5 separate regions of the Homo sapiens genome follow, and regions 2, 3, 4 and 5 are each reported to be linked to region 1. Evidence: microRNA targets listed by miRTarBase, many of them from high-throughput screens and not tested one by one. Region 1 holds a microRNA gene; each other region holds the end of a gene's coding sequence.
The links. Region 1 holds the annotated microRNA hsa-miR-374b-5p (AUAUAAUACAACCUGCUAAGUG, at 2,236-2,257, opposite strand). A microRNA usually pairs through its seed, bases 2 to 8, with sites in the 3' UTR of a target mRNA and lowers its output. Matches are read on the target gene's strand: a 7mer-m8 pairs with bases 2 to 8, a 7mer-A1 pairs with bases 2 to 7 and ends in A, and an 8mer does both.

Region 2: miRTarBase lists NR2C2 as a target of hsa-miR-374b-5p. Seed matches in the 3' UTR shown: 7mer-A1 at 1,798-1,804.
Region 3: the mRNA of SIK3 is a reported target of hsa-miR-374b-5p. Seed matches in the 3' UTR shown: 7mer-m8 at 1,625-1,631, 7mer-m8 at 1,578-1,584, 7mer-m8 at 1,550-1,556 and 7mer-m8 at 1,539-1,545.
Region 4: miRTarBase lists STRAP as a target of hsa-miR-374b-5p. The part of its 3' UTR that is shown has no 7-base or 8-base seed match.
Region 5: the mRNA of GHITM is a reported target of hsa-miR-374b-5p. The part of its 3' UTR that is shown has no 7-base or 8-base seed match.

The regions. Positions count from the first base shown.
Region 1 is chrX:74,216,352-74,220,472 of GRCh38, forward strand. MIR374B (microRNA 374b) reads right to left here and starts at 2,267; the gene lies at 2,196-2,267. All of the region lies in intron 5 of FTX (FTX transcript, XIST regulator), which reads right to left. It overlaps MIR421 (microRNA 421), which reads right to left and starts at 2,110; the gene lies at 2,026-2,110. MIR374C (microRNA 374c) reads left to right here and starts at 2,198; the gene lies at 2,198-2,267.
Region 2 is chr3:15,042,666-15,046,786 of GRCh38, reverse strand. NR2C2 (nuclear receptor subfamily 2 group C member 2) reads right to left here. Exons shown (of 14, transcript NM_001291694.2): 14 at 1-3,953. The coding sequence ends at 3,779. It also overlaps a transcript of MRPS25 not described here. Among named protein-coding and RNA genes, the nearest start is that of MRPS25, 21 kb to the left of the region's middle.
Region 3 is chr11:116,843,077-116,847,197 of GRCh38, forward strand. It overlaps SIK3 (SIK family kinase 3), which reads right to left. Exons shown (of 25, transcript NM_001366686.3): 24 at 3,307-3,477; 25 at 326-2,553. The coding sequence ends at 3,320. It also overlaps APOA1-AS. Among named protein-coding and RNA genes, the nearest start is that of APOA1, 7.5 kb to the left of the region's middle.
Region 4 is chr12:15,902,533-15,906,653 of GRCh38, forward strand. STRAP (serine/threonine kinase receptor associated protein) reads left to right here. Exons shown (of 10, transcript NM_007178.4): 10 at 385-946. The coding sequence ends at 446. Among named protein-coding and RNA genes, the nearest start is that of DERA, 6.7 kb to the right of the region's middle.
Region 5 is chr10:84,151,672-84,155,792 of GRCh38, forward strand. It overlaps GHITM (growth hormone inducible transmembrane protein), which reads left to right. Exons shown (of 9, transcript NM_014394.3): 9 at 593-1,897. The coding sequence ends at 677. Among named protein-coding and RNA genes, the nearest start is that of GHITM, 14 kb to the left of the region's middle. RefSeq lists an enhancer at 3,641-4,121.

The DNA.
Region 1 (4,121 bases):
CAAATACTCAATAAAAGAAGGAATCACCTGGATCCCCCCACTCTTCTAAGGCTCATCTACTATCCCACTACAGCCTTTCTTCTCTAGTATTTGCAGTTAACATGTGCCAACCTCCAAGTCATTCCTCACAGTCACTGAAGCCTTTTGTACCTGGCCCAGTGTTCATTCTAAGCCTAGCTTCTACTATAATCCTGGGTTACTATAATAGTCATGTAAATGATCATCTGACATCCTAGCTTCACAGGTATCTTAACCACTCCAGTTTTGAAATCTAACACTCCAAAGTCTACTCTGATTACAGGTCCTATCACTCCAGTTTTCCAATTACTCAGCACTCACCTTGTTCACATTAAAGCCTCTTTTTGGCCCAGACTGAGGCCACTCCTGACCTTACTTCCTTCCATGTCCAGGTTGGATTTTTTTTTTTAAATGAAGTCTCACTCTGTTACCCAGGCTGGAGTACAGTGGGTGGGATCTCGGCTCACTGCAACCTCCGCCTCCTGGGTTCAAGTGATTCTCCTGCCTCAGCCTCCTGAGTAGCTGGGATTACAGGCATGTGCCACCACACCTGGCTAATTTTTGCATTTTTAGTAGAGACAGGGTTTCACCATGTTGGTCAGGCTGGTCTCGAACTCCTGACCTCAGGTGACCTGCCCACCTTGGCCTTCCAAAGTGCTGTGATTACAGGTGTGGGCCACCGCGCCCGGCCTTAGTTTGGATTCTTAAATCCATTTCTGTGTAACTCGTCTCTTGCTAGCTGTCCACCCCTCAATCAATCAAGGCAACCAAATACTGCTAGTGACAATGCCCCAAAACCACTTCATATTTTCCTGAGCTTCTAACCCAGTTTCAAACTCATTTCTTACTTTGATATACCATAAGCTCTCCTGTTAATGGTCTCACTCCAGCGTTTTGGCCTGAATATTCCTTAGGGACTCTGGTTCATATTTAGCCCTCTAGTATTTCTGTTCCAGCAGCTTTTGTCTTCATATTCCTGTTCCTGGTCAGCTTCCTCCCCATCATCCACCTCTACAATTACAAATCTTCACCACCCTTGCCAAGTCCTCTTCCTTACTCCTATCCCTATCTCTGTGCTCCAGCAAAGAGGTAGTTCCACTTACCTAAGGCTAACCCTCCACCTGCATGTGTTCTAGAGCCATAAATTTCACCCTTCCAGCTTCACCTGCATCATCTTTCAAGATCATCTTCCATCTATTATCATCTCTCTCTTTCTCACATCTACAATGACTCCCTTCTCAATTCCTTCTGCCCCATGGTCTGCAAACACACTCAATTTTTTTCTCATGTTAAATGATTCACTGTAAGGCGCTGGATAAGTGGTTTTAACTTGTATTCTGGTTGTCACATCTACAATCAGAAAAGCTTCTCACAAAATAATGATTAAGTACAATAAATAAGATAAAGAAAATATGAACCTGGTGAGAGGTGAACAGGACGGTGGAGGATTACCTGTCAGTGCAGGTAAGGGGATAGCTGGAGTAAAGTTGAAAGGGGAAAACTTTAAATATCAGCCACAGGAGCAAACCTCAGACTGTGAGGATGAGGTTTCTGTTCAGACAATGAGCACTCTGGTCCAACCCAGGGAGCAATTAGCAGCAATTACAGTAGCAGCAACAGCCATGCAACATCAGCAAGTAGCTAAGACCAAAATGCAGGCATAGAAATGAAGTATTTCATAGAAAACAGAGTAGCAAATATGACATATGAGGCACTTGTGCTGCTACTCCCCCTTCTCCGACCCTCAGCAGACATCACTAAATAGTTATAAATGTCTTTCACACTGAGATAAGACCTGGTTTCAGAATCTTGTTATAAAACATAATCAGGGCAGGCATTATCAATCAATTGGAGATGGTACTTGAGATGAAGTGTATTTGCTATCATTGCACTACACAGAAAAGTCCTCAACAAAAGAATTAGAAGACAGGAATAAGCTTCAGGAGTAAGCATTCTGAAGAGAGCTTGGACGTTGTTGGCAACTGGCGGGGACAAGCTGAGCCCATGGAGATCACAGAGCAGGCGCCCAATTAATGTCTGTTGATGATTCATTTTTTCATTCAACAAACATTTAATGAGGCCTACAATGTGCACCGGATTAGGCACTGTGAATACAAAGATGAGTAAGGCACTGTCCTTGCCCTTAAGGAATTTAAAGTCTGGTAGACGAGAGCCATAGACACGGACAATGATAATACAACCTGCTAAGTGCTAGGACACTTAGCAGGTTGTATTATATCCATCCGAGTAGGATTTCTTCAGAGGAGCACCACTCCAGGTTGCTGCTGGATCCATGAAGTCCTCCCAGGCACCAGGGTCTGCTGTTGTTTTTGTCACGTGCTGGGTGTCCCAAGATCTAACAATAATAGCTGTAATTAATGTATAGAGTGCCTATGACAAACACTTTACAAATATCTTCATGGAAACTCTGAAAATTAATAGTTATATTAGAGGAAGAAACTGAAGTTCAACAAGTTTAAGTCACACAGCCAGCAAGCAGTTGAATTAGGTTTCAAATCCAGTTTTGACAAAGTCTAATGCATTTTTCTGTTTTCAGGATAACCTTTATGCAGGTGTAATACAACAACTTTTCAACAGCTTTCTATTTGGAACTAAAAGCAAAGGCAATAGATTAGTCACTAGATCATGGAGTGATTAATTTGGTTTCCCACTCTACCTGGCAGAGAAATAAAAGGTGAAATGACCTCACACTTACATACCATTGAAAACCTTCAAGTCAGTTACTGTTTTTCTTTCTCAACCCTAACATCGTCACTGATCATTCAAAATATAAGTACCTCTAGTCAAATCTCTTCTTTTAATACTTGTCATAGTCAACACCATTATCAGCAACAACAGTTGACACAGCATTTAGCTGTATATTCCAGGCCTGTTCTAAGCAATTTACATAATTAGTCCCTTTAAGTACTTTTTACCCCCATCATTGAAAATAAATATTATTCCTATTTTACATAAGAGAAAACAGAGTCCTGGGGAAGTGAAGAATCATGCTCAAGACCACATTGCTAAGTGTGAGAGCAGATTTGAGCCCAGGCTACCTGGTCCCAAGACCCAAACTCTCACTTTACATAGCTCTGCTGCACTGCTCAGGGCCTCCTTTCCCAACTCTTGATGGCAAGTTACACAAGGCCCCCTGAAAAACCCAGTCCTACTTACATAAAATCTCATCACTAACCATTCTGGTCATAGAAAGCCATTCTCTAAATCCCAAATATCAATACTCAGAGCCTTAATTGGAAAATTTCCCGAAGAACATTGAGTTTAGAATATACCTTTGCAAAAAGAGAAAATAAACACTCGATATGTTTAGGTTTTTAATTATTGAATTTTTTTTTTACTTGCAGATATAGTCATAAACGTTTTAAGATCCATAAGCAAACTAAAGCAATTATGCCAATAATGACTAAGGCCACTGCTTCCTCAATTGAGTCTTTGATATAAAAGCCTTCACTTTTGGTTAATTACAAAAAAAAAAAAAAAAAAAAAAAAAAAAACCGTGGGAGATATGTGACAGTGAGAGTAGGCCTGCTACTGATGAGAAGGACCAGCAACTTAGCAACACCATAAAATGTCTGCTGCAATTCAGGTGTCTAGGTGTCTCCCTGAGAATCAACATTTCATATACAGCTGTTCCCAGAAAACAATCTTGCACAATCTGTACAGTCAAGTTATGATCTAAAAGGAGTTAATTGCAACATTCATCCAAAGAATATGACAGTATTTTTCATCAAGGTCTTTTTCTATAAGTTTTTCTATAACTTTTCCTATAAGTTCTATTATGTCTATACAGTCATGTGCTGCCTAACAATGTTTAGGACAATGATGAACCTCATATATGACAGTTGTCCCACAGTTGTCCCACCACAAAATCATATCATATTTTTACTGTAGCTTTTCTATGTTTATATATGTTTAGGTACACAAATACTTACCATTCTGTTATAATTGCCTACAGTATTCAGTACAGTCATATGCTGTACAGGTTTGTAGCCTAGGTGTGTAATAGGCTATACCATTTAGAGAGGTTTGTGTTAATATACTCTATGAAGTTCACATGACAAAATCGCCTAACAATACACTTC
Region 2 (4,121 bases), not on the chromosome of region 1:
CATTCCCAGGGCCCAGTGGGCACCGCCTTCCCTGGGAGAAAAGTGGCTGTCAGATGATGAGACTTCCTATGACCTGGACTAAGAAAAGAGTTAAAATGTTACCTATGACCCCATTGCACATAAAGTCATTTACACTGGAAAGTGGGCAACAAGCTTCTGGACTCCAATGAGATCAGGTCCCAGAACATGGATGTACACATGTGGCATGAACTGCTGATTGCGGCCAGGGGCTGGAAGCCCTGCAGAGGGCGGGCTGTGAGCAAGAGTGCTCTGCAGGAAATGTCCTCAAAGGACTATGAAAGTAAAAGCACTAGAAACAGCTAGAGTCCTTAGAATTTTTTGCTCCTTGCCGTAACTATCCCCCAAACAAGTAAGACAGCTAATAAGTATGTGTGTAGCGTGGATATTGCCTTGAGATTAAGGAGCCTAACGCATCCACTGTTAACACCATGGCTGGTGTCCTAACTGCCTCAGAAGAGTCCACATTCAATACTGACAATGACAAGCTAAAAATCAGTCCCTCTTGAGGGCAATTACACATCTTAGAAGTGACTACACCTGAAATTAAATATAAAGCCCAGAACAGCAAAAGAACCTCAAACCACAGCCTTATGGCAAGGGTTAGACAATAAATGTAACTCCTCAGGACACAGAAATGTCAAATTAGGAGAGTATGGTAGGTAACACACTTCCTTAAAAACACCTTCCAGGAGTAACTTGAAAAGTATTACTTGCTCAACTAATTTGGTCTTTCAAAAAATCTCTTCCTGTCCTGTTTTATGCTAATGTGTAATGATCTCCACCATTTTCAACATCTATCTGTCTTAACCCAACATTATCTGAGATACTTCTGGAAAAGAGCTCACTTAACTGATGACAGCATGTGTCTGTCCCACCTCTCTGAGCCAGCTGCCTCTCCTCATTGAGGGAGGAGCAGCCAGGCCAGTAGAAGAGGGAGCATGAACGTGGCTCCATGGAGTTCAGTAGCCAGAGGACAGGTCTCACTTCATGAAACCCAAAGTTTCACAAACTGCTAATAAGGGCTATAAGCCCTGTGAAAGTTGGAGCCCAAATATTTGGTTTGCATCTCTTTAAGTAATTCTTGACTTTGGGCTGACTTTACTTAACCAACCTGACAGGAGATGAAATGGACCTGCAGTCAGAGGCTTGAAATGAGTTAAAGCAGCAAGAATACAGGTTACGTGGACATGATCCTTAAAGAAAAGGCCACTTCAAAGTAAGGCCAAGAGGATCTCAGAAACCAACCAAGAGGTGTTCAAAGCCCAAAACAGTCCCTGGAATCAGCCATCACCAGCAAGGGGACTTAAAGAGCAGGACCAGGTTAGAATCAGCACCTTTCCAAGCAAAATCACGTTTTCTGCAAGGTTGTTTCACCACAGCCCAACACTTCCTTATCCAGCCTGAGTCTAAGCAGCCTACTGGCTGCCACTGAATGACCTGGGAATGAGAGGAGGGGCTGGTGGAGACCTTTTCACCAACACCAAGAACTGGGATCTGAAAGCTGTTATGCTTGTATTCCCAGGGAACTGCAACATGGCCCTCATGGTCACTCTCAAGGATCAAAACGACGGAAGGCAGGCAACAATCTGTGTTAGAGGCACCACTGAGCTGCAGGATGCCTGCTACTAAAAGCCTTCACAAGCAGAAATGAAACAAACCTGCCCTAATTCCATTGTCTCAGCTGGTTTTTTGTCTTAATTTTGAAACTGAAAACACATCAGGGTTAGAAAAGTAAAAATTACTTTAAGCTGGCAAAATTAAATCCTTTCCATCATTTTATAATGGCCACTCCCACTACTCTCCAAAATTTGCTGCCAAGGCAAGAATTATAAAATGATATAATTAAATCCAAACAAGAATTTAGAAGTTGGAAACACTGTTCCCACTTACCCTACTAACACTGACTTGCGTAAAGTGCTGCTAACCCTTCAGGATCAAGCATCCTGTTCTGCCTTGAGCCTGCAGCAGCTTCCATTCTGTCCAATGTGGCACCACAGGGGCGTCTGTAGCTGGCCAGACTGCACCCCTGTGGAGCACATGTGGCGCCAGCCTGAGCCAGATCAGAGCACCTGTGAGTCAGGGGAGTGTCCAGGGATCTTTTTGGATATCATCTGATTAACAAATCAAGAGAGGCAAATTTAACCCAACAGGGTGTATTTTCTTAATCTGGACTATTTAAAAAGCAAAAGACAAAGCAATTGACCGGGTCTTCCACATGCCACTGTTCTCAAACAGGAAAAGCTTGCTATATATTCACATCCGTGGGAATTTACGGGTGTTTGAAGTTAGACATAACTTCCTTTTAAGCGCATACTGTTCTTGCTGTAAACTCTGGTTGCTACAATTTATGAGGAGAAAGACTATCACCCTGGAAATTGAGGGTTGTTTTTAAGGAGCAAGCAGCCTGCATTTAAAATGCTCCGGGGTGGTCGGCTGGCACACACCTGGGGGAACCAAAGTGCACAGTGTGCTGGTAACATTAACAGACTTGCCAACAGAGATGCTGAGTCTATACACATTTTTAAAATCTCTGGTATTTAAGGTCAACAGGAAGAAATTGTCCTGAAACCTTCCATCCAGCTTTACCAGGCCCTAACCACTCTCGCCAGGCGGCAGCAGGCTCCTGCCCAGCCCCAATCCAGCCTCACAGTTATGATGGAGCTGCAGAAACACGAGCCCTTTTCAAGGGGGCATTTGGAGTGGAAAGCCCTGGGAAGGTAACGCTCACACTCCAAGGCCACACTCCTCCATCTGGACAAACACACAAGCACCCCCAATTGTATTGGAAGTACTGTCAAGAGCTCAAAATGCCCACCTTGCACTTTTTGGTCACAAGGCTCCATCTGCCACGAGCGGCGGATGTGACTTGGGGATGTTTTCACTTGCTGGAGGAACTGTACATCTCATTTGGCAGTTAATGTCTGACTAGTTGCAATCCAATTCAGATAACCAGTCATCAAAGGAGAACCCCAGGTTCTAGAGGAGTCTGCAGATGCCCATCAGAGACCAGGACCAAGTAGTCAGGGAACCTGACAAGTGTCTGCTCTATGGCTAGAAGCTTCTGAACTGGGTCACCACCGACTGTGCTACCACACTCCCACTTACTGCATGATGCAAATGAGCCACGTTTCCATTCACAGAATTCAGCTCAACTCCACAACATGTGCACACAATTAGGAATGATGCCTTCTTTTCTTAAACATAAATGATTGTCTCCTGTACCCTAGTGAGTTTTCACAGAAATCATTAGCATTTCGGCAAAAGACATACACAGTTTTCCATTTGCCCTGCCCACAGGCAAGATGTTGCTAACGTTACACATTGATAAGTGCTTAGAAAGTGCTAATATTATTACCCTGGTAATTAGTATCTATAATTCCAAGGACTTTTTTATATATATATATACACACATACTATTCTCTCAGGTTCTTTCAGTTTTCTTTAATACTAGTCTCTGACATTATAAAACCTTTTTTTTTGTTTTTTGCCCTTTGAGAATTTCTAAATACAAATTGAGTTAAAAGATTGTTCCAAAATCTGCTGCTTCATCAAAAGGCATTAAAACATTTCTTATGTCAGGAAAGGATCCTACTAGTCTTTTAATTGCTATTGTCTGGGATTAACAGATAAGGAGAAACCAGACAGGAAATGGCTAACATATGGAAATATTTGCACATACCAAAATACCACTACTTTTCTTTGTATGTGAACGGTCCTGGAAGGATTCTGTTGCTCCTTGGCAGGTGTGTGGTTTGCGCTATAGACTGGCTCCGGTGATCTGGCCATTATACTCTGCTGTCTCCATCTTGAGGATGTAGGGGATTATGCTGTCTATCGAAACATTGCCAATGAGACCAGTAAAAAAAAGTTCTTCTGTTATGTTGGAGCTCATCAGCCTGAGTGCCGGCAGGCGAACGAGGATCCGGGCCAATCTATAAAAGGGAGTGTCATTAGAAAAGGAGACTGTTTGATGCCCTTCAACCACAGCTCAGCAAAGGCTCCTGGGGTCCCGTCTGTATTGCACAGAATCAAACCAAACGGATCCACCATCCACCCACCTCTCTTTTCTGATTTCAACAGTTCCTCTTATAGAAATTTAT
Region 3 (4,121 bases), not on the chromosome of region 1:
CAAATGCTCCCTTCTGACAGGGCAGAGTCCGAGCTGGGTGCCCAGGGACACAGTGTGAAGCAGAGTTCAGGCTTCTAGAGAATGCGAGTTTCTTAAGTCACTCAAAGCCCCACCCTTAGCCTGGGAGACCTCTCCAGCCTCCACTGCTCCAGCTCCCACCTACCTGAGGCTTCTTCCAACTAGACTCCAAACCACAGGCAAATAATCTATCAGCCTAAGAACACAATCAGGCTCCTATCTACACAACTTCCTGCTGTCCAACTAAGTAACCAAGTTGTAAGTAAGTGCCTCACAAAAGGAAGGACAAAAGGCAGGACAAAAGGTCTTAGCAACTTGAGTCTGGAGATTTTTTTTTTAATCCTTTTTAGTTCAACATAAAATGAGAAAGAAAAAAATATTTCTGACATTTTCAAAGAACAGAAATAGGAAAGTATGTTCATATACATTCAACGTATACTGCACATATTGGTTACTACAATACAAAGCAATGAGTTTTTTTTAAAGTGTAGTTTGCAAGATGGCACGGTTAGTAGGCTCACTGGCTTTCATCTGTTGTTGCTGGAGGGTGCAGTCTGCTCTCCCATACATACAGTACCATGTAAACACATCAGGCTGAGCGCGTGGTGGTGGTAGGGCAGGTTGGGGGCATAAGAGTTGGAACAAGCGCAGATAAGTCAACAGCTTTTTAGGGCTTTCTTGGTAAGCCCCCTTCTGGTGAGTAGTTGGTGACCCCACCAAGTGGAGGGGAGACTGGGGACCATGGAAACATGGGACAGCTCCCACGAAGGGCTCTTGCACTGCAGAATTCCACTCAAGGGATCTTGGGTCCAGGAGCCGAGCTGCCAGTATCAGTGGAGAAGGACAAGGTGCATGGGGATCCCGCCAGCAACATCAGGATGGCCATGCCGGGCACCCGCTTTCCTCTGTGCAAATTCAGGATGAAAGACTAGGAGGGGACTCGGGACCTCTTGCTCTCCTTTCCCAGAAAAAAAAAGGGTGGAAGAGTCAGTGTATTCAAGGTCTCTCTCTTGTTTTGAAGATCAGAAGGAGATAACCCAGACCCTCTCTCAGCCCCAGCCAGCAGAGAAGACTTTGGTTTCTAACAATGAAGAGAAATAAAGATAACACAAATAATAGCTACTGCGTATGCACTGCTTCAACTGGGGAAAGGAGACCACTGCATCTGTCACTGGCACAAGTAAGAGCTGTTCACAATTACAATGCCTAAAGGAAATACTTTGAACAAAAGGTGCAAGTCACAATTCAAATAGAACAGAATCTGGTTAAACATTTCTCATTTAAACAAAAATTCCTTTTCTCTTTATTTATTAATAATGATAATAACAATAATATCAACATTTACCAAAAACAATTTCTACATGATCAAGAATTAAAATATAGGGGCTGAGGGTACCCAGTGGGGAAGAGGAGGTTAGGAGAGAGGCAGGGCCCAAGGCAACCTCCTACACTTCTTCCCTGTGACAAAGAGGCTGAAAGAGGAGAGCATATATATATATATTTTATATATATATTATATATATAATATATATATAATATATTATATTATATATTATATATATAATATATATATACACATATATTATATTATATATATACACACATATATAATATATATATGGAGAAACAATCCTTTTTATAGCACAATATAAAATGAGAATGAAAGATGCCATAGAAAGCATAGTGCACTGCTGTTGGGTGTTCAGTCCATGGATAAAACCAGCAGGATGATAAAGGCAACCAACTTTCCAGGTTACAAGAGGGGAGCTGAGTTATCCACCAAAAGCAAAGGCTCAAATTGAGACATCCTAACTGGCAAACCATCTATGCCAGGTCATTCTCAGCCTCCGTGCCAAACTCTTCATATGATCTTGGCTAGGACAGACATGTTTTCCGTGGATCCCAGCAGTAAAGACCTCTCTGCGTTCCAGGCTTGGGGGTTTCTCTTTTTTTGTTCTTTTTGTTTTCTAAGTGCCAGAAGCCGTCACCCTTCCTCTCTCCCTTTGCCTGCCATTAGGATTCCAGAGGATGGCATCCTTTAGTATTTGCTTTCACAGAAGAGCAATGCAGGGGGATGGAGGGTGCTCTGCTGATGAAGGCTAGGGAGGGAGTGGCCCTGAGGCCGCTGGCCTCTGAACTCTAACTGCTTTGCTCTCCTGTTTCAAAAAAGGAACGAAAGAAAAAAAAGAAAGGAAGAAAAAAAAGAAAGTATATCACCTCTGGAAGAAAACATACCAAAAACAAAACAAAACACAAACCCCCAAACAAAACAAAAAACCACCAACTCAAATATACTTTCACAAAAGATGGAGAACATGGATTTCCTTCCTGTTTATTTCCTTGGTGACTTGGTCATACAAGCAAACATGGCAAAACCCTCTCAGAACCCAAAAGAACAGCACACGGATGAACCAAATGTGAGGAAAGCAGCTGTGATATTTTGGGTGGAGAGAAACACAAGGGCAATTTGGCACAACGCTGCTAGATACTGTGGGTTTACAATCAACCTTTTCATTCCCAAGCTGTACACAAAACCTGGAATAAAGCAGACACAGAGGAGAATTAGTTTGAAAAGAGAAAGGCTCAAATATTCCATTTAAAACCTTTTAAAAAATGCAACGGGTTTACTTTCCCTCAGGTGTTCAGGTAGCTTGCCATACTGAGGCTCTGATGTGGATTTGCCAAGTGGCTTCCCTTTCATCAGGCCTCTTCTGTCAAGGATTTTCCAGATACAACCAATGGTGCCTGCTGTGTACTCTTTGCATTACTCCAGCCAAACAAGCCAATTTCCCCATTCTTTCTACCATGGGCCTCTCATCACACATTTCCCTAATCTGGAATATCCTGCCACTTGCTTCTGTATGGCCTTAAAAAATATGGCTGGACATATTTTCCTGCCAGGTTTTGTCTTTTAGGACTGAGTTTAAGGACTTCCTCCTTTCCTCATTATGCTGACCGGAGGTCACCTGCATCCTCTGGAGCCGTAGCTCACTTCTGTCGCTATGAAGGCTAGAGCACCTGTAACACACGGCGAGTCTTGTGTCTTATTCCCATAACCGAACCAAGAGACTGTGTTTAGCATTTCTTCTGCACACCCCCACCCCTACCTCGCGCCCTAAAACTAGCAGCGTCGTTAATGAAAAGCAAGAAACTGTGAAGGCCACGAGGGGAGGCGTGGTACTGTCGACTGCACTGGCCACCACAACACATGGGCTGAAGCTCCTGATGGGATTGGGAGCAGGCACTGGGCCACAGGGCTGGTTTGGCTCTGGCCAGGGTGACACTCACTCTCTGTTTCTTGTTACACGCCTGCCTGCTCCATGCTGAAGGAGACTTCGGGGTGCTTGTAGCTGAGCAGAATGTCTGTAATACACGTAGATGGATAGCAAGAGGAGTTTAAATGCTGGCTGCCATCACTCAGGTCTGGGTGCTCATGACCTCCCAGGCTTGCCCCACATTCTGCAAGACCAAAAAGAACGTATGAGGTTGGCAGGGAACTGGGGGACTAGGAGAGCAAGGGGGAGAGAGAGGAGGAATTGAAGGCAACCTGTCGAGCATCCCACAGCCTGACTCCCAGCCCTGAATTCTAGCTCACAGCAGGCCCTCAAGGTGTTGAGTGACGATGGGCGGGGGCCAAGATTCTTCCTATATTCTCCTCTACCTGTTCTGCTTTTTTCCCTTTTCCTTTACCCTTTCCCATCCTTAGGTAAGATCAACTACTGTAGTGTGAGAGAAGATAGAGGACTCCTTCAGAAAGGATCACCTCTTAAAGAGTGAAAGGGAGAATAATTTTACTGCCTGCAGGCACCCATTCCTGGGCACTGTCTGTCTTCCAGACACTGTGCTAAGCACTTGATACTCACTAAGCCAGCCAGCCCTCAGGGCACAATGTAGGATAAAGGCTCTATCGTTTTTGCCACTTTACAGATGAGGATCTCGGGGTCCAGAAAGCCAAGTGCCTCACCTGCAGAGCCTGAAAAGGACAGCCTTGGGACTGGTGGCAGACCTGCCCCGCCCAAGGCCTACGCCTATTATTTGTTATGACACCCTCCCTTGACTGGCTCCAAGAAGAGGTAGAAATGTGCCATTAGGACCTGATGCCC
Region 4 (4,121 bases), not on the chromosome of region 1:
ATGTTTTGCTTTAAATAGCACTAAATATTAGGATTTGAATCACTAAAAGAGAGGGCCAGATCCTTCGAAGACATGACTTTAATTCCGGGTTTGTTATATAGCTGGAGTCTTTGAAAATTTAGGCCAGAAAGGGACCCTTGGAGGTTGAGTTATGGTGTAAGAGAATCTAGTGGATAAAACACATGAACTCTTTCTTCTTTGCCTTTTCAATGACATGAGTCTAGTTGTTAGTGGCATGTGCAGTTGCTCTCTTCTTTCCCTTACCACAGTATGCTTTACAAACACTTTTTCATTCCTTCATTACACAGAAATGTAGATTTGCTTCTTTCTTTCATTAAGTTGACTAATGTGACTTTTTTTTTTTTTTTTTTTTTTTACTTATAGAAGAAATTGCTTCAGAGAATTCAGATTGCATCTTTCCTTCAGCTCCTGATGTTAAGGCCTGAGCGTCAATCATATGTGCAGTTAGTATACAACTGACTAAAACAAGCAAGCAGAGAAAAGCATCAGCCTTCCAGAGTTACTGTCTGCTTAAGGCAGAAACAGCAGTAAATAATGAGGAAAATGAATTAGCTCCAGTGCTGGAACAACTAACTAACTTGGTGTTACCTGTAAGTGAAAACTCAAGTGTCAGATGAAGGGAGGTGGAGTTATCCTCTTATAGTACAGTGGCCTGTTATCTTTTTAATGAATATATACAAGCCAACATCCAATTTCTATTATTACAATTAGGGTTCTTGTAGCTGTTTATGTTAATATGGAGAAGAAAACTATATTGGCTGATTTTTTCTGATCTTAAAGCAGAATGCCTTTTCTTTTTTTGCTTCAGTTGTAAAGAAGAGGGAATACATGATAAAGTAACTGGTTTGATTTCTCGTTCATTGTACACTGCCTCTGAACATCTAATTGTTTTTAGTTGTCTAAATAAAATGCCTCTAAAACAAAACAATGTTTGGTTTTTTTGGGGAAAAACTACTAATGTGAGTTTTATAAGTGGAAATAGCCAGAAGGTTTTTCTGTATCATAACCATAGCAAAAGGTAAGCCAATTAATCTGTAGTAAACATTATTTTATAATATTGAGATTCAGTTACTTGTCCTGAATTTTTGAAATTCTTATGTCCTTTACTAGTGTTTCATTTACCTTCTCTATTCCCAGATTGGATAGAAGTGCTTGACATGCCTTTTTAAACAATTATTTAAATAATACATGCTAGTTATAAGAAAAAAAAAATCAACTGAAATTTAGCAGTAAGCTGAAAGATCACTTAAAATCCTACCACTCCTCAAAAAACTATTAAAATCAAATGACCATGAATGCATGTTAGGGCATCTCTGTATGTATATACAGATAGATAGAATGGATTTTATAAAAATGGGATTACTATAGTCCTGCAGTGGTTTAAGAAGTATGGAATTTTACCTCATTCTTTAAATTTGGGTGGCATTCAGAAAGCCCTTCTAAAACCTTCTAATAAATTGGATCAGCTGAGTTTAGACTTGTAATTTATTTTTTAAAACAAAGAGGGCATATTAAATGAGTAATTTGGAAATACTTCAGATGAATAAATAACATCTCTGCAACTTCCTTTTTCTCCTGATCAGTCCTGTGAGTGACCCTTGATAACTTTTCTTAAAAGCAATATGAGTCAACCAAAGAATAAGATTAATTTTTGAGGATTTGTGATAACCAGAAGAAAGCACTGTAGGCTGTGACAACCTGTGAGGGCCGAGAGAAATACAGGGGAGCCAACTGGTGATCCATATTGGCTTTCATAGAGTGGTAGTATTTTTGTGTCAGCTTGTTACATGCCTGAACCTCTGGATTGCAGCAGTGTTGTCATTGTACCAGCAGTTGCTCAGACTCTAATCAGAGTCTGATTTACCCTCAATAAAGTTCTGTACGCATCAGATTGGAATCATGAAGTTGCTTGTTATTTATGAACCAAGGGAATTTCTCCTTAGGTTTCATAAAAGTCTAATGACCCTGTACAGGTACAGTCCTTTGTGTATTGGTTTCCTGCTGCTGCTGTAACAAGTGACCACAAATGTGTACCTTAAGACAACACAAATTTATTATCTTACGGTTAGGGAGGTCAGAAGTCCACAGTAGGTCTTGCTGGGCTTAAATTAAGGTGTCAGCAGAGCTGCAAGCCTTCTAGAGGCTCTACAGGACAATCTGTTCCCTTGCCTTTTCTAGCTTCTAGAAGCCAGCTGCATTCCCTGGCTCATGGTTCCTTCCTCTTTCTTTACGTCCAGCAGTGTCCGTTTTTTAATCTCTTATTCTGAATGTGACTCTATCTCCTGCTGCCTTCTTTTATTTATAAGGAGGTTTGTAATTATATCGGGCTCACCTGAATAATCCAGGATAATCTTTCCAATTCAAGATCTTCAATTTAATCACATCTGCAAAAGTCCCTTTTGCCATATAGGATGACATATTCACAGGTTCTGGGGATTGGGAAGTAGACATCTTTGTGGGGGCCATTAGTTATTAGTCTGCTTACCACACTTGGTAATGGTAGAATCCTACAGTAGAATTTAACAAAACTTTCAAGAGTAGTGGTCACTTTTCTGTTCTCATCTTAACTAAACCTTCAGCAGCATTCAATAATCATCCACTTCCTGGTTTTTGATTTTTTTTTTTAGCTTCTATGAAACTACACTCCTGGGTCTTTTTTTTTTTTTTTTTGAGATGGAGTCTCGCTCTGTCACCCAGGCTGGAGTGCAATGGTGCGATCTCAGCTTACTGCAACCTCTGCCTCCCAGGTTCAAGCGATTCTCCTGCCTCAGCCTCCTGAGTAGCTGGGACTACAGGCATACACCACCACGCCCAGCTAATTTTTGTATTTTTAGTAGAGACGGGGTTTTGCCATGTTGGCCAGGATGGTCTTGATCTCCTGACCTCGTGATCCACCCGCCTCGGCTTCCCGAAGTGCTGGGATTACAGATGTGAGCCACCGTGCCCGGCAGGGTCTTTTTATACCTTACTGACTCTTGTATTTGCCAGTTCCTCCTTTTTTTTCTTGACTTCAGATCTGGGCTGCACTTTCTAGCTCTGTTGTCTAAAGAAAAATATCTGCTGTTACTCAAGATCTTCTGATAGGTTCTACATCGTTGTTTATATGTTGTCTACCTGGTCTGCCTCTTTGAGCACCAGAGTTTGACAGCATAGTTGAGTGCTCCATCTTAACCTTTCATAAGACTCAGACTTACCTATCGTAAGTCTTGATTTTTTAAATCAAACCTGTTTCCCTCAACCTTTCCCCATTCCACTAACTGGTACTAACTTATACTTACTTGTTCAAACTAAAAGACATGTAAATCCTTGACTGTGTTCTCTCTCATGCCCATGTCTATATGCAAGTCCTGTGGGCTCTTCGAAGCTGTGCTTTGCCTCCTCTCCATTGTTACCACCCTAGGCAGGCTACCTTTATTTCTCAGTTCCTTCATAACTGCTCCCTCTTGCCCCTACTCATTCGTCTGGCTCTTATCCCATCCATACTCCATACAGTAGGAAAGGTAATTGCTTTAGGATTTGAAGAGATGAGGTGATTTCCTTGTTAAGATCTGTAATGGCTTCCCATTATATGAAATTCTTATGATTAGTTGGCTCTTGATACCTTTTGTGACTTTTTCATATTTCCCTTGCTTGCCCTGCTCTAGCCACAGTGGCCTCATTTCTGTCTCAAGTCCTTTTCACTTGATATTTCTGCTACTTGGTTCACTCTTACCTAATGTTTTGCTTGGCTGGATCCTTTCTTTGCATTCAGTTCTCCAGCTGGTCTGTATTCCATCTCTTGTCACTTCTTACTGAGTCCTATTTTATTCATACTTGTTAACGCTATTTGAAATTTTGTTGCATGTTTTTCAGCTTCATTGATAGTCTCCCTTTACCTGGAAAGGTGACTGGTATGTTGTGAGTGCTCAATAGTTGTTGAAACAAGTCCCTCACCAAATCTTTTTAATCTCTCCCAGTAATCCATGTCAGACCAGGAAGACTGTTTTCCAGTTATCTCATATGTAGCAGGCCATCCTCCACTGAAGAGTGAGACATGGCAGGCATGGCAGACATGGCAAGACAAAGCTCTTACCTCTCCAGTGAACCCGTGTACAGCTTCA
Region 5 (4,121 bases), not on the chromosome of region 1:
TATTAATTGTTATTATGTTTTTTTCTTTTTTCTTGGAGTCGACCAAAGTGGGTTATTTTATTTAAACAATTTTCTTGAGTTTCATTGTGTCTGTCACATTTTTTTAAAGTAATTTGATTTTATCTAAAAATAAAACTTAATGTAATGGTTTAGGGGGAAGAAAAAGTTGCTGTACTGTAAAGCTTACAGATTTGTAGAAGTTTTCTTTAGAGGGGTGAAGTGGGTCTTTTATATTAAAAAATGCTAGACTTGTGTCTAACAGGTTTTTATAAAGGTGTTTCTTTGGTCTTGTTTTGATTATTTCATTGTCTGCCACCTAGTTTTCTTTGCAAGTTGATATATGCAGAGTGTCAGAGAATAAAATAATGATTTTTTTAAACTGCTCTTTAACATTTAAAAGATGAGTCTGCCAAAAGGAAGACCTTAACTATTTTCTAGTCTAGTACTTCATTAGTTGGCAGTTAAACATCTTATTTTTAATTTCCATTTTATATCACTAAGACAAATAGTATTTTTCTTCTTTTCTATATTAAGAATTCAACATCACTATTAGAATTGCATCATATATAATGGGCATAATTTTCTTTTCTAGGATGCTGAGTATCTACATGGATACATTAAATATATTTATGCGAGTTGCAACTATGCTGGCAACTGGAGGCAACAGAAAGAAATGAAGTGACTCAGCTTCTGGCTTCTCTGCTACATCAAATATCTTGTTTAATGGGGCAGATATGCATTAAATAGTTTGTACAAGCAGCTTTCGTTGAAGTTTAGAAGATAAGAAACATGTCATCATATTTAAATGTTCCGGTAATGTGATGCCTCAGGTCTGCCTTTTTTTCTGGAGAATAAATGCAGTAATCCTCTCCCAAATAAGCACACACATTTTCAATTCTCATGTTTGAGTGATTTTAAAATGTTTTGGTGAATGTGAAAACTAAAGTTTGTGTCATGAGAATGTAAGTCTTTTTTCTACTTTAAAATTTAGTAGGTTCACTGAGTAACTAAAATTTAGCAAACCTGTGTTTGCATATTTTTTTGGAGTGCAGAATATTGTAATTAATGTCATAAGTGATTTGGAGCTTTGGTAAAGGGACCAGAGAGAAGGAGTCACCTGCAGTCTTTTGTTTTTTTAAATACTTAGAACTTAGCACTTGTGTTATTGATTAGTGAGGAGCCAGTAAGAAACATCTGGGTATTTGGAAACAAGTGGTCATTGTTACATTCATCTGCTGAACTTAACAAAACTGTTCATCCTGAAACAGGCACAGGTGATGCATTCTCCTGCTGTTGCTTCTCAGTGCTCTCTTTCCAATATAGATGTGGTCATGTTTGACTTGTACAGAATGTTAATCATACAGAGAATCCTTGATGGAATTATATATGTGTGTTTTACTTTTGAATGTTACAAAAGGAAATAACTTTAAAACTATTCTCAAGAGAAAATATTCAAAGCATGAAATATGTTGCTTTTTCCAGAATACAAACAGTATACTCATGATTGCTAAGTGTTTTTTTATTTTTGCATATTTATTGAACTGTCTAATTGAATACAGCTTGCTCTTGTCACCTCTTCAAGCTTTCAAGCCTTTATAGAAAAGCTTCTTTGTGGCTTACACTGGAAATTATGAAAGCAGTTTTTCTCCTAAGACTTTTGGTTTCTCGCATTGCCTCTCAGACTAAGCACTAAAAAGCAAAGCAAAACAGAACTAGTTCTGTCTTAATGAAATATATCAACCCAAAAGTGTAATGAGGAAAATGCTTCATTAGTTTCCCCTAGCAGACTTTTACTTCTCTTACACTGCTACACCATTACTTTCTTGAGACATTTGTAAGTTCTTTGATACAGAAGAGTTATATTTAGAAGTCTTTAATGAAGGGAAAGAAGTCTGTATGATGACTGAGGTGATTGCTCTTTTTGACAAATGTTTATTACAGTAATGCAGAAATACTGTTAATCATCTCAAAGTACATAGGAGGCTTATTTCTGAAACAAAGGTTTCAGCCAGATGTTGATTAGTCTAATTTTTCCAAGTGAATCATATGCATGCCATTTGAATAGGGATTTCTTCAAGAAAGCAACTTAGTTTCTTGCCAGTATAGTATAGTGCAGTGTGATAAGTACATGATACTTGTAGCTAGACTACCTCTATTTGAATCTCAACTCTTATTTCTTATGTGACCTTGGGCAAATTACTTAACCTCTGTGTGCCCAGTTTCCTCTCCTGTAAAATGAATATATTGGAACCTGTCTTATAGGTTTATGGTTAAACGTGCAGGCACTTAGTAAGCATTACATAAGTCTTAGCTATTGATGCTTTTTTTTATTAGTAAAAATGTAAATGCCAATTTTCTATTTTTCTTCTCCCCATCCTGATACCCATATCAGTGTGATCTTAAAGTGCCTGTTTTCCTTAGTCACCTTTTAGAACCCAAAGTTTATGTCTTTTTTAAATTAATATCACACACAAAATGATATCATTTCAGTGATGGTATCAGGCAGTTTATCTAGAAAACCAAGGATTTTTTTACTGTTTTACTTTTTTTTTAAATAGAGGGGTTCAGTTTGGTCTTAAATTGGATTCAAACAATCCACTCACCTTGGCCTTCCTAAGTGTCGGCATTACTAGCTTGAGCCACTGCCCCCATCCTGGGTTGTTTTGTTGTTGTTGTTGTCGTTGTTGTTAATTTAATGACATTATGTTATTGGACTTCTTCTGACTTTGCTAAGACAATGAAGGCTATGCAAAATAATATATAAAATGTGGCCGGGTGCGGTGGCTCACGCCTGTAATCCCAGCACTTTGGGAGGCCGAGGCAGGCAGATCATGAGGTCAAGAGATGGAGACCATCCTGGCCAACATGGTGAAACCCTGTCTCTACTAAAAATACAAAAATTAGCTGGGCATGGTGGTGTGCATCTGTAGTCCCAGGTACTTGAGAGGCTGAGGCGGGAGAATCGCTTGAGACAAGGAGGCGGAGGTTGCTGTGAGCCAAGATCGCGCCACTGCACTCCAGCCTGGCAACAGAGCAAGACTCCGTCTCAAAAAGATAAATAAATAAATAACATATAAAAGGTAAGCTGATATATAAAATGTGATCGTTTGTAAAACATACCAGTTGTAAATGGTAATAGAAAAAAATCACTAGTTTCTTGGCTCTTAACATACCACAGAGTTTTTGTTTTTTTTTTTCCTCATTCACAGCGAAGAGTAATGACCTGCAAAGTGATAGGCTTTAGGTAAAAAAGTAAATGTCCATTTTTCATTTTCTGACATCGTCTGAAATACTAGAGGATAAATGAAACATGTTTTAAAATAATCCCGAGAAAAAAGGCCCTTTGAGTTGTTGCTTAAAATGGCATCTACTGAACAGTCAGAAAACATGAATTTTTTATGTAACAGGTGCCATGCTAGCTGGGCCCAGGGGAGACAATGATGAATAAAAGTAATTGCCTTCTAAAGCATATCAAATCCGTGTAAACACGGCCATAGGCCATTGGATGAGTGTCACAGAAAGGTAAGCAAAATGGAAATGCAGACTGAATAATAAGTTTCTAAGATGGCCCAGGAGGAAATTTTCAAGAGTAAGCATAGTAGGTAAAGCACACAGAAAAAGGTAGTATGGGCATTTCATACAATGGATGCTTGATGGGGGAGGGCTGCAGGGAGAGATGGACAAAGTGGAAAAAGATGGTAAGAAATGGAAATTCTCTTGAAGCTGGATTTCCCACTTGCTGCGGGTGTGTGCTTTGCTTAACATGTTAAAACCTGCAGGCGTGGTGGCTCATGCCTGTAATCCCAACACTTCGGGAGGCTGAGGCAGGAGGATTGCTTGAGCCCAGGAGTTCAAGACCACTCTGCACAACAAAAAAACCCATCTCTACCAAAAATTTAAAAATCAGCAGGGTGCAGTGGCGCATGCCTGTAGTCCCAGCTACTCAGGAGGATTGCTTAAGTCTAGCATTTCGAAGCTGCGATTGTGCCACTGCACTCCTGCTGGGCAAAAAAAAAAAAAAAAAACTAGGAAGACAGGCAGGCATGTTTACCTTGAAATTGTATCTGGGTAACGTGTCCAGGTTAAAGGTACTAAAACTGAGTGATACCCAAGACATATAA